2 separate regions of the Homo sapiens genome follow, and region 2 is linked to region 1. The links come from fine-mapping of genetic effects on gene expression. A gene starts in region 1. The other region holds a variant in brackets. All regions are shown on one strand. Distances are between the middles of the regions.

The links. PIP is the estimated chance that this variant, and not a neighbour inherited with it, causes the effect.
Region 2: its variant is the best candidate, but not a certain one, in a credible set for the expression of SKOR1 in thyroid (GTEx, PIP 0.66).

The regions. Positions count from the first base shown.
Region 1 is chr15:67,822,795-67,827,176 of GRCh38, forward strand. It overlaps SKOR1 (SKI family transcriptional corepressor 1), which reads left to right and starts at 2,715. Exons shown (of 9, transcript NM_001365915.1): 1 at 2,715-2,915; 2 at 3,142-4,382. The coding sequence starts at 2,809. It overlaps LOC124903570, which reads left to right and starts at 583. Exons shown (of 4, transcript XM_047433429.1): 1 at 583-645; 2 at 1,165-1,249; 3 at 1,845-2,608; 4 at 2,719-2,790. The coding sequence starts at 583. The coding sequence ends at 2,790. RefSeq lists an enhancer at 3,983-4,382.
Region 2 is chr15:67,797,553-67,801,934 of GRCh38, forward strand. The region is part of intron 21 of MAP2K5 (mitogen-activated protein kinase kinase 5); the gene reads left to right. Among named protein-coding and RNA genes, the nearest start is that of SKOR1, 26 kb to the right of the region's middle. The variant G/A (reference allele first, on the strand shown) is at 2,189.

The DNA.
Region 1 (4,382 bases):
TCTCTCTTGATACCTCCCACCGAAGTCAGGAGCATGGGAGAGGCAGATCTGCTCCTTCCCGGGTGCCATCCTCGCTGCCCTGCACCCAGGTCCCTGTCCCGGTCTCTGGTGACCCTACTGGTTCCCGAGGGCCACTCTAGGCTCCACCACCCTGGCCCTCGCCTGCGGCCGGAAAGTGAAGTACTCCTCCCTGCGCCCGTTCCTCTTGAGTCCCCCTTAGCCCCATCACCCGGTTTTGGCCCAGACCAAAACTGGCTCCTTGGCCGGGAGCACTGGGCCCTCCCCACTTCGTTCTTGGGGACAAACTTTATGGCCCCAGGGCCTTTCCTCCCTCCTGGCCTCTCCAGCTAGAGCGGGACGCAGGTGCAGGGTGCTGGACGCAGGTGTGCGGCCGCTTACCTGGGGCGTGCAGGCCTTGGGCTGCGGGGAGGCGGCGGGCGCCGCGCGTGGCCCGCGGGCGGGCGGACCCGGGGAGGGCGCTAGCGACTGCGCGGGCGGTGGGTGTGGCGCCCCGGCTCTCAGCTGTCAGGCGCGCCTGCCCCGCCACTCGGGCTGTGACCGCGCCGTCCCCGCCGCCGCGCCATGCGCTCCAGGCTTCGGCCTCTTCTTCCGGCCAGTCCCCGGCCTCGGGGTCAACGGCTCAGGGTTCGCATCTCCGCGCCCGGGGTCCCGGCGCCCCGTGCCCGCTGAGAGCGGGAGGGGCCGCGGGTGGGAGCGCGGAGAACCAGGGAGCACGGCTGTGCGCGCGCGCGGGGAGGGGCCGCGCCGTCACCCGGAGAGCCCGGCGGATCCCGGACTCCCGCCCGCCGCTCCTCCCGCCGCGCACCTCCGCTCACCGCTCGCCCGGCTCCAGCCGCCGCCGCACTGTGAGTACCCACGTCCGGTAGCCCGCCGCCCCCGCGCTCTGCTCCTGCAGCTTTTTTTTCGTTTAGTTCTGATTTGGGCTCCTGTGGCTGTTGTTTTTATGATTATACCTAAAGACACCACCGCCTCGCTCCCACCACTGCCAGTCTCCCGCTTCGCTGCCCTCCCCAAGCTCGTCCATCTAGCTCCGGGAGCCGACGGGGGTTCCTCAAGCTGCTCTGGCTGCTGCTCCTTGTCGCTGCATATGGCTCTTCGCCTGTGCTTTCCGCTTTGGCCCCCGAAATTCCGTTCCTTTCCTAGGGACCCCCTTCTTCTGACTCCGGGCCCGGACCCCCCTCCTCTCACTCAGGGAAAACCGCGCAGGGACCCAGGACCCTCAACTGGGGTACGCTCTCGGCTCGGGCGCTGTCTTCACTGTATGCGGGCCAGGCATAGTTGCCGATTTCGAGAAACCGAGAAGCTGTCATTTCCCAGCGCTGCGCGCCCTCCAGCCACCTCCAGGAGGGCGCGAGGCTTGTCAGCCGGGGAGTTAGGACAGTGTTTTTGCCTCCTACAATGATATAAAGGACTTCAACGCGAAATAAGGGTCAACTTATTTTAGTTCGATCCTCGGAGATAAAGATGAAACAGACAGATAATACATAAATAGCTTGATACTTGAAGAAGGTACAAAACAGATGAGAGAAAGAGGAACGAGCCGGCAGAGACAGCTCAGGGACAGATAAGATCGACAAATGAGGGTCTCCTAGACAAATAGAGAAGAAGGGAGAGAGACAGATAAACAGAAGATTCCAGTCTCCTTGCTGAAGGCTTTTGAACTGGGATCCCCTGTCTGGAGCTGCCCCTCTGAAAACGGAGTTACATTCAGGGCCGACTGCAGGGGAGGAGCCCTCAGGGTTGGGCTGCCCTGGCCGCAGGAGCGCCTGCAGCCTTGGGCCGGATGGGAGCCTGGCTTGTCTGAGGACATGTGGCTGGGTCAGGCGACCTAGAGGGCCCCAAACATCAGTCCCCAAGTACCCCCGCTGCTGAGGTCTGCCTGCACAGCTCCCTCCCTGCCTCAGCCAGAAAGCAAAGTGCAAGGACCAGCAGCAACTTGTGTGCCTGGAGCCTTGCAATGGCTACGAAGATGGCTGAGATTCCTTCTAGCCCATATGAGCCGGGACAGCGAGGCATGAAGGATACTCAGAGAGGTGATGCCCCTCAAAGAGGAAGCCCAGAGCCCCGAATCCTGCAGTTGGCCCGAGTGGGAAACGTATATCTGAAGGAGGAAAGCTCAAGGAGTGGGCGACTGGAAGCTAAGAAGTGGATCCCAACAAAGTTCCTTGAGAACCTCTCTGTCCCACACGTTGACCTCGGTGGAAACCAGCTTTGGTCTGGAATACAGCTAAAAATGCAGAAAATGTGGTTAGAACTGCAGGATCCTGGTCTCACTAATAGCTGGAAAGAAAACGGTTTATATATCCAGCCGAAATCTTTCTGCTCAACGAACGCGGGCGCCAGCCGTGAGAGGAGAAGCTCGGGTTTGTGGAAACTGGCAATGTTGTCCCCTGAAGCCGGCTCGGGCACCAAGCTGGGTGCGGTGGGGGCCGCGCTAGGTCCGGGTGCGCACCGAGCGCTTTGGAGAGGGTCAGGTTCAGCACCGCGAACAGCGGTAGCCTCCGCCTCTCTCCTTCCCTGGCAGACACGGTTCCCTCCTCCTTCTCCTCACCCCCCTCCTTCTCTTCACCCCCCTCTACCCCCTGCTGTCTGGAGATGGGCAGTGACCGCCCCTCCCCCCTCCCCACCCCTCCTTGCACTGCCCCCGCCCGCCCGCGTGCATGCGCGACTGAGCAGAGGGGCGGCCGATCCCCGAAGTCCGGGCTTCAGGACCCGGGCCGGCAGCACCGGCTGCGAGGGTTGCCGAAGGCGCACGGATCTGGGCGCTGAAAAAGCCAGGATTTGGCAATGGCTTTGCTGTGTGGCCTTGGGCAAGTCACTCTGCGTATCTGGGTTTCACTTCCTTCCCAATCCGAAAACGGGATTGGGTTCCTTGCAGCCCGGGCATTCCTGAGGTCTCCTTTACCCCTTCTCCTCCCCCAAGCCCCGGGGGCTGTTGTTAACGGCGCCAACATGGGTCTGAGTAACAAAAGACGCCTGTCCAGGGGGTGAATGAGTTTGGACTCCCCACTGCCAAGTATCCCCCGCGCGCCCAACTCGGAGCGCCCTGCTGGGCGGGCCCGAGCCTCGGCGGCGGCGCTGAAAATGGCTCATCTGCTCTCTGCTTTCTCTATTTCGCAGGAGCGGCGGCATGGAGGCTCTCACCACTCAGCTGGGGCCGGGGCGCGAGGGCAGTTCCTCGCCCAACTCCAAGCAGGAGCTGCAGCCGTACTCGGGCTCCAGCGCTCTCAAACCCAACCAGGTGGGCGAGACGTCGCTGTACGGGGTGCCCATTGTGTCGCTGGTCATCGACGGCCAGGAGCGCCTATGCCTGGCGCAGATCTCCAACACCCTCCTCAAGAACTACAGCTATAATGAGATCCACAACCGCCGCGTGGCCCTGGGCATCACGTGCGTGCAGTGCACGCCGGTACAGCTGGAGATTCTGCGTCGGGCCGGGGCCATGCCCATCTCGTCGCGCCGCTGCGGCATGATCACTAAGCGAGAGGCCGAACGCCTGTGCAAGTCGTTCCTGGGCGAGCACAAACCACCCAAGCTGCCCGAGAACTTCGCCTTCGATGTGGTGCACGAGTGCGCGTGGGGCTCGCGTGGTAGCTTCATCCCTGCGCGTTACAACAGCTCTCGTGCCAAGTGCATCAAGTGCGGCTACTGCAGCATGTACTTCTCGCCCAACAAGTTCATCTTCCACTCGCACCGAACACCCGACGCCAAGTACACGCAGCCCGATGCCGCCAACTTCAACTCCTGGCGTCGTCACCTCAAACTCAGTGACAAGTCGGCCACAGACGAACTGAGCCATGCTTGGGAGGACGTCAAGGCCATGTTTAATGGCGGCACGCGCAAGCGGACCTTCTCCCTACAAGGAGGCGGCGGAGGCGGTGCCAATGGCGGGTCGGGTGGGCAGGGGAAGGGTGGTGCTGGCGGCGGTGGCGGCGGTGGCCCAGGGTGCGGTGCAGAGATGGCCCCAGGCCCGCCGCCCCACAAAAGCCTGCGCTGTGGCGAAGATGAGGCTGCCGGGCCTCCGGGGCCACCTCCACCCCACCCGCAGCGCGGACTTGGCCTGGCGACTGGAGCTAGTGGCCCGGCGGGCCCAGGAGGGCCCGGTGGCGGCGCCGGCGTACGAAGCTACCCGGTGATCCCGGTGCCCAGCAAAGGCTTTGGGCTCCTGCAAAAGCTGCCCCCACCACTTTTCCCCCATCCTTACGGCTTCCCTACGGCCTTCGGCCTATGCCCCAAAAAGGACGACCCGGTTTTAGGCGCGGGCGAGCCAAAGGGCGGTCCTGGCACTGGGAGCGGCGGCGGCGGCGCGGGGACAGGCGGGGGTGCGGGGGGCCCGGGAGCCAGCCACTTGCCCCCGGGGG
Region 2 (4,382 bases), 25 kb before region 1:
TACCCTTTCTAGGCAACATGTGTTTCTCTTTGGTGCTTGCATTTTCACTATAGTTTTTCTAGGTATAGATTTTATATTTATTTTACTTGGAAATCACTGGTTTTTTTTAAATTTGAGAATTCACATCTTTCATTGGTTCTTTTTTTTTGAGACAGAGTCTCACCCTGTGGCCCAGGCTGGAGTGCAGTGGCGTGATCTCGGCTCACTGCAACCTCTGCCTCCTGGGTTCAAGCAGTTCTCCAGCCTCAGCCTCTGGAGTAGCTAGGATTACAGGCATGCGCCACCACACCTGGATAATTTTTGTATTTTTAGTAGAGACAGGGTTTCACCGTATTGGTCAGGCTGGTCTCGAACTCCTGAGCTCAGGTGATCCACCCGCTTCAGCCTCCCAAAGTGCTGGGATTACAGGCATGAGCCACCATGCCCGGCCTAAAATGTTTTCTTACTCAAGAGGTAAGGAAAGCAGAGGACAAGGGAGAATCCATCCTTCTGAGCATTGTGTCTTTAAACCTCCATCACCACACAGCCATCAATCACCCCCAGAGACAAACCTTGAATATCTAGACACTTGTCACTGGCCCCATATTCACAGTGTGGACATGCTGCAGACTCCACCTTTCAGGGGTGAGTCCTCAGTATCATCTGGAGCAGATGTCCATTCTCCTCTGGCATCCTCCCTCCTGATCCCTCTGGGCATCTGCGTGGCCCAAAACTGCCGGAGGCAGCCAGCATATCCCCCACTGTACAGCCTGCCCAGTCCTATCCAAGGCCCCTGCCAGAGCAGCCACCACAGCCCCCTTTAAACAGGCCAGTGGCACAATTCTGCCATTCACAAGGATCAGCTTCCTCCGACAAACTCATGAGTGTCGGCACCCCAAGTGTCTAGCCACCTCACCATGGCCCACTGGAGTCATCCTGTGCCCCATCCAACACCGTACAACACTGGTCCTGCGGCTGCTCTGTAAGTACAGGCCCTAGAATGACTCACAGACACCTCTGGAAACATTTTTTTTCTCCCAGTGGTCCATTTCTGGCCTATTACTCTGTGTAGAAACACATAGATCTGCTCAGATGAAAAGTGGAGAGCTGCTTGACCCCCTTAGGTGCCTGCGTACTGTCTAGGATGGCTAGAGGTAAGCAATTTGCTGCTAATAATTGAATATTTGGGGAAAAACATCTATTTCTATAGCAATTATGAAGAATAAACTCAGGAAGGTTGATTGAAATGACATGTCACAGCTGCATACCACTTCCCAGGTCTTAAAAGGAAATGAAGGGCTGGCAAGGAACCCCCACCCCCAAATATGGAAAAGCTTTAGAAATCAGAGGCCAAGACAGCCGGGCACGGTGGCTCACGCCTGTAATCCCAGCACTTTGGGAGGCCAAAGCAGGTGCATCACGAGGTCAGGGGTTCAAGACCAGCCTGACCAACACGGTGAAACCCCATCTCTACTAAAAATACAAAAATTAGCTGGGCATGGTGGCGGACACCTGTAATCCCAGCTACTCAGGAGGCTGAGGCAGGAGAATTGCTTGAACCTGGGAGGCGGAGGTTGCAGTGAGCCGAGATCGCGCCACTGCCCTCCAGCCTGGGCGACAGAGCGAGACTCCGTCTCAAAATAAAAAAATAATAAAAATAATAAATCAGAGGCCAAGAAAGCATGTTCTCAGAACAAATGCCTTGTGTGGAAAACTCTGCATTCGTGGCATTTGCCCAGGTATGCTCGCTATGTGGACAGGAAGACTCCACATCTTTGGTGCAAGCACCTCCTCTCACCCCTGTGCCCTCAAGTGCAGGACCTGTGCTCTGTGTGGAGGAATAACCCTCACCTGCCCAGAGTATATCTGTGAAGCACCACCCCAGGGTCAGGTGACTTCATTTGGTCCTTACAACCCACTCCGGGAGGAAGAGAGAGCAGGTGGTATTTGGTGTGGGTGAGGAAGCTGCAGACAGCTGCCCTGTGTTCAAAACCAGCTGACAGATGAGACCCAGAAATGATGGAGAGAAAGTATCAGCTTTACTTCTATACAAATCTGGATTGGAGGATGTATTTACAAGTGTGGCCCCAGTGGCCTTGCTACGCAGAGGTGAACAACTGCAGGCCTCCTGCAGGCTTAGAGCCTGCCTGGAGGCTCAGCATGAGATGGCAGGCCAGACAGATCTGCCCAGTGGGCCCACCCACCCAAT[G/A]TTGCCACTCCCTCCCTGGGGACAAGGCTCAGGAGTGTTACAACAGCAGCAGTACTTCCATATAGAATGAAGCCAGGAGAAGGGAGGCCCCCTCCACTCTTTGGTATTATCTCTTTTATAGGCGAGGCCCTAGTGGGATGGCCAGGGGAGGGCTGACCGACTCTTAGCCAGGGGCCCTTGCTGTCACTCCACGCAGAGTGGGGGGCGGTGGGGGGGATTGTTATTGTGATGCTTTGGCTTCCTCTTGCTGAGTCACTTATCAGGTCCTCTCCTTCCCTGGCCATTCCTGTTGATTAGCCTGGCCACGCCCAGCCTGGAAGGAAGAGTTGGCCCCAGGGATAGTTATGATTTATTATCTCATGTAATTAATATTATCAGGCTGCCCACTATCCTGCCACTTGTCAGCAATTCAGCAGACAGTGGAAATCTGTGCATCCTCCCATAAATTATTTAACGTCTCTAATCTGAAGTTTTCTCCGGGGATTAGATTGGTAGCTTTAAAACTTTAACAGTGGAACATGTTTTATTATGTAAAATTAATGCAAGACTTCAATATTAATGTAGAAGTGGGGTTTTTTTTTAGCATGAATGTATTAGTATCCATTGTAGACACTTCTTTTTAAAGTCATCCATGAGACTTAAAGGACAAAAAATTCTGAGAGCCAGGGTCACAAGGGCCAGTGGCAATCTCATACCTACACACAGCTTATTTCTGTATATTGTCTCAGCACAGTGTCAAGGAAATCCTCACTCACCTAAGTTGCCTTCCCAACTTAGGCATCCATCAAACCAATGTAGATGCTTAACAAAGGAATAGCAGAAATGTTTTATTTTACAGTTAGCCACTGACAGCAATGACCAATTGTTCATATGAATCGTTTATGGTAAATATATTGGTCAGACAAATGGTACTCAAACCTTATGGGAACTGACACCATCAGAAACTCAGAGCCATGGACCACACTGTATCCCCCACCCCGATGTACGTGATGGGGCTCAGTGTACCTGGGCTTTGGTGCACTCACACAGCTTTACACATGCATGTGTACGTCCTAAGTGGACGTCTTTTTTCAAATGACCAGTGCACCACAGCAGCCCTCCTAGCCCATGCTTGCCATGTAAGAAGTTGAATAATATGCACAGATCTAATAAGCGGACTCTAAAAGCTGCAAAAAGTAACACCACAGTACAAGGTAACAGATCACCAGTATTCAGTGTAACCCTTTGACCATAGTTGAGTGTATGTTATTTTTTTAAATCCGTTTTTAAAACTGTAGCTAAAAATTTTCTTAACAGAATTTGAAACCGCTGCAGAGCCCCCAAAGCACCTCACACCCTATGGCTCCGCTGGACTGTGAGATCCCATCTAGTCCTAACACTCCATTAGTGTGAGAAGGGACAGAAGTGTTATCACAGCCAAGCGGGCTGGAATCCTAAAGGGAGATGCATAGAGCCTTCAAGCAAGGCTCACAGGTCCAGCAATGAAAGGCAAAGGGATGGGCAGTGGGTTGGCATGTGGAGGTCCCTTCGGCCTCTCAAATCACCATTTACAGGGCAGTCACCTGATCACAGGGCTGCCCTGTCCCAACAGCAGCTTGTTGGAGTCTTTACTAGGCCAGGCTTACTGCTTCAACAGGTTCATGAGTCCTTGGCCTCCTATCCCATGCAGCATCCTTGGTGGGAGAGGATGTGCTTGGTGCTCACCCTGAGGCAGAGCAGTCCTGTGGTCCAGAGAGCCACCAAATGTCTAGAGCAGCCACAGCTTATGGAGCCATCTCCCCAGAGAGACACCACCAGTAGGCAGGCAGTGTGGTGTCTTCCATGGTAGAAGAGTGTCCTGGGTTTAAACTCTAACTCTGCCACTTTCTCCATGACCTTGCCACATAATATCAAGCTTCCTAGAGCTTTAGTTTCCTTTATAAAATGGGGGTGCCGGGAGGGTTCAGGAGAGCTGTGGTCAGATGTAAGGCATTCAGCCAATGCCTGTACACAGCAAGTGCTCAGTAAGTAGATGTATACATACAGAATATAGAAGTCACCTTTTCATGAGGGCCTACCACATGCAGGCATTGCACCAGGCCCTGCAGCCACACCAGCAAGTTATTAAATTATTCAAATGCATTATATTCTCTAGAAAGTTATAGAAAGAGATGAAAGTATGGGGACCCCAAATAGGTACATTCCTATTTCAGAA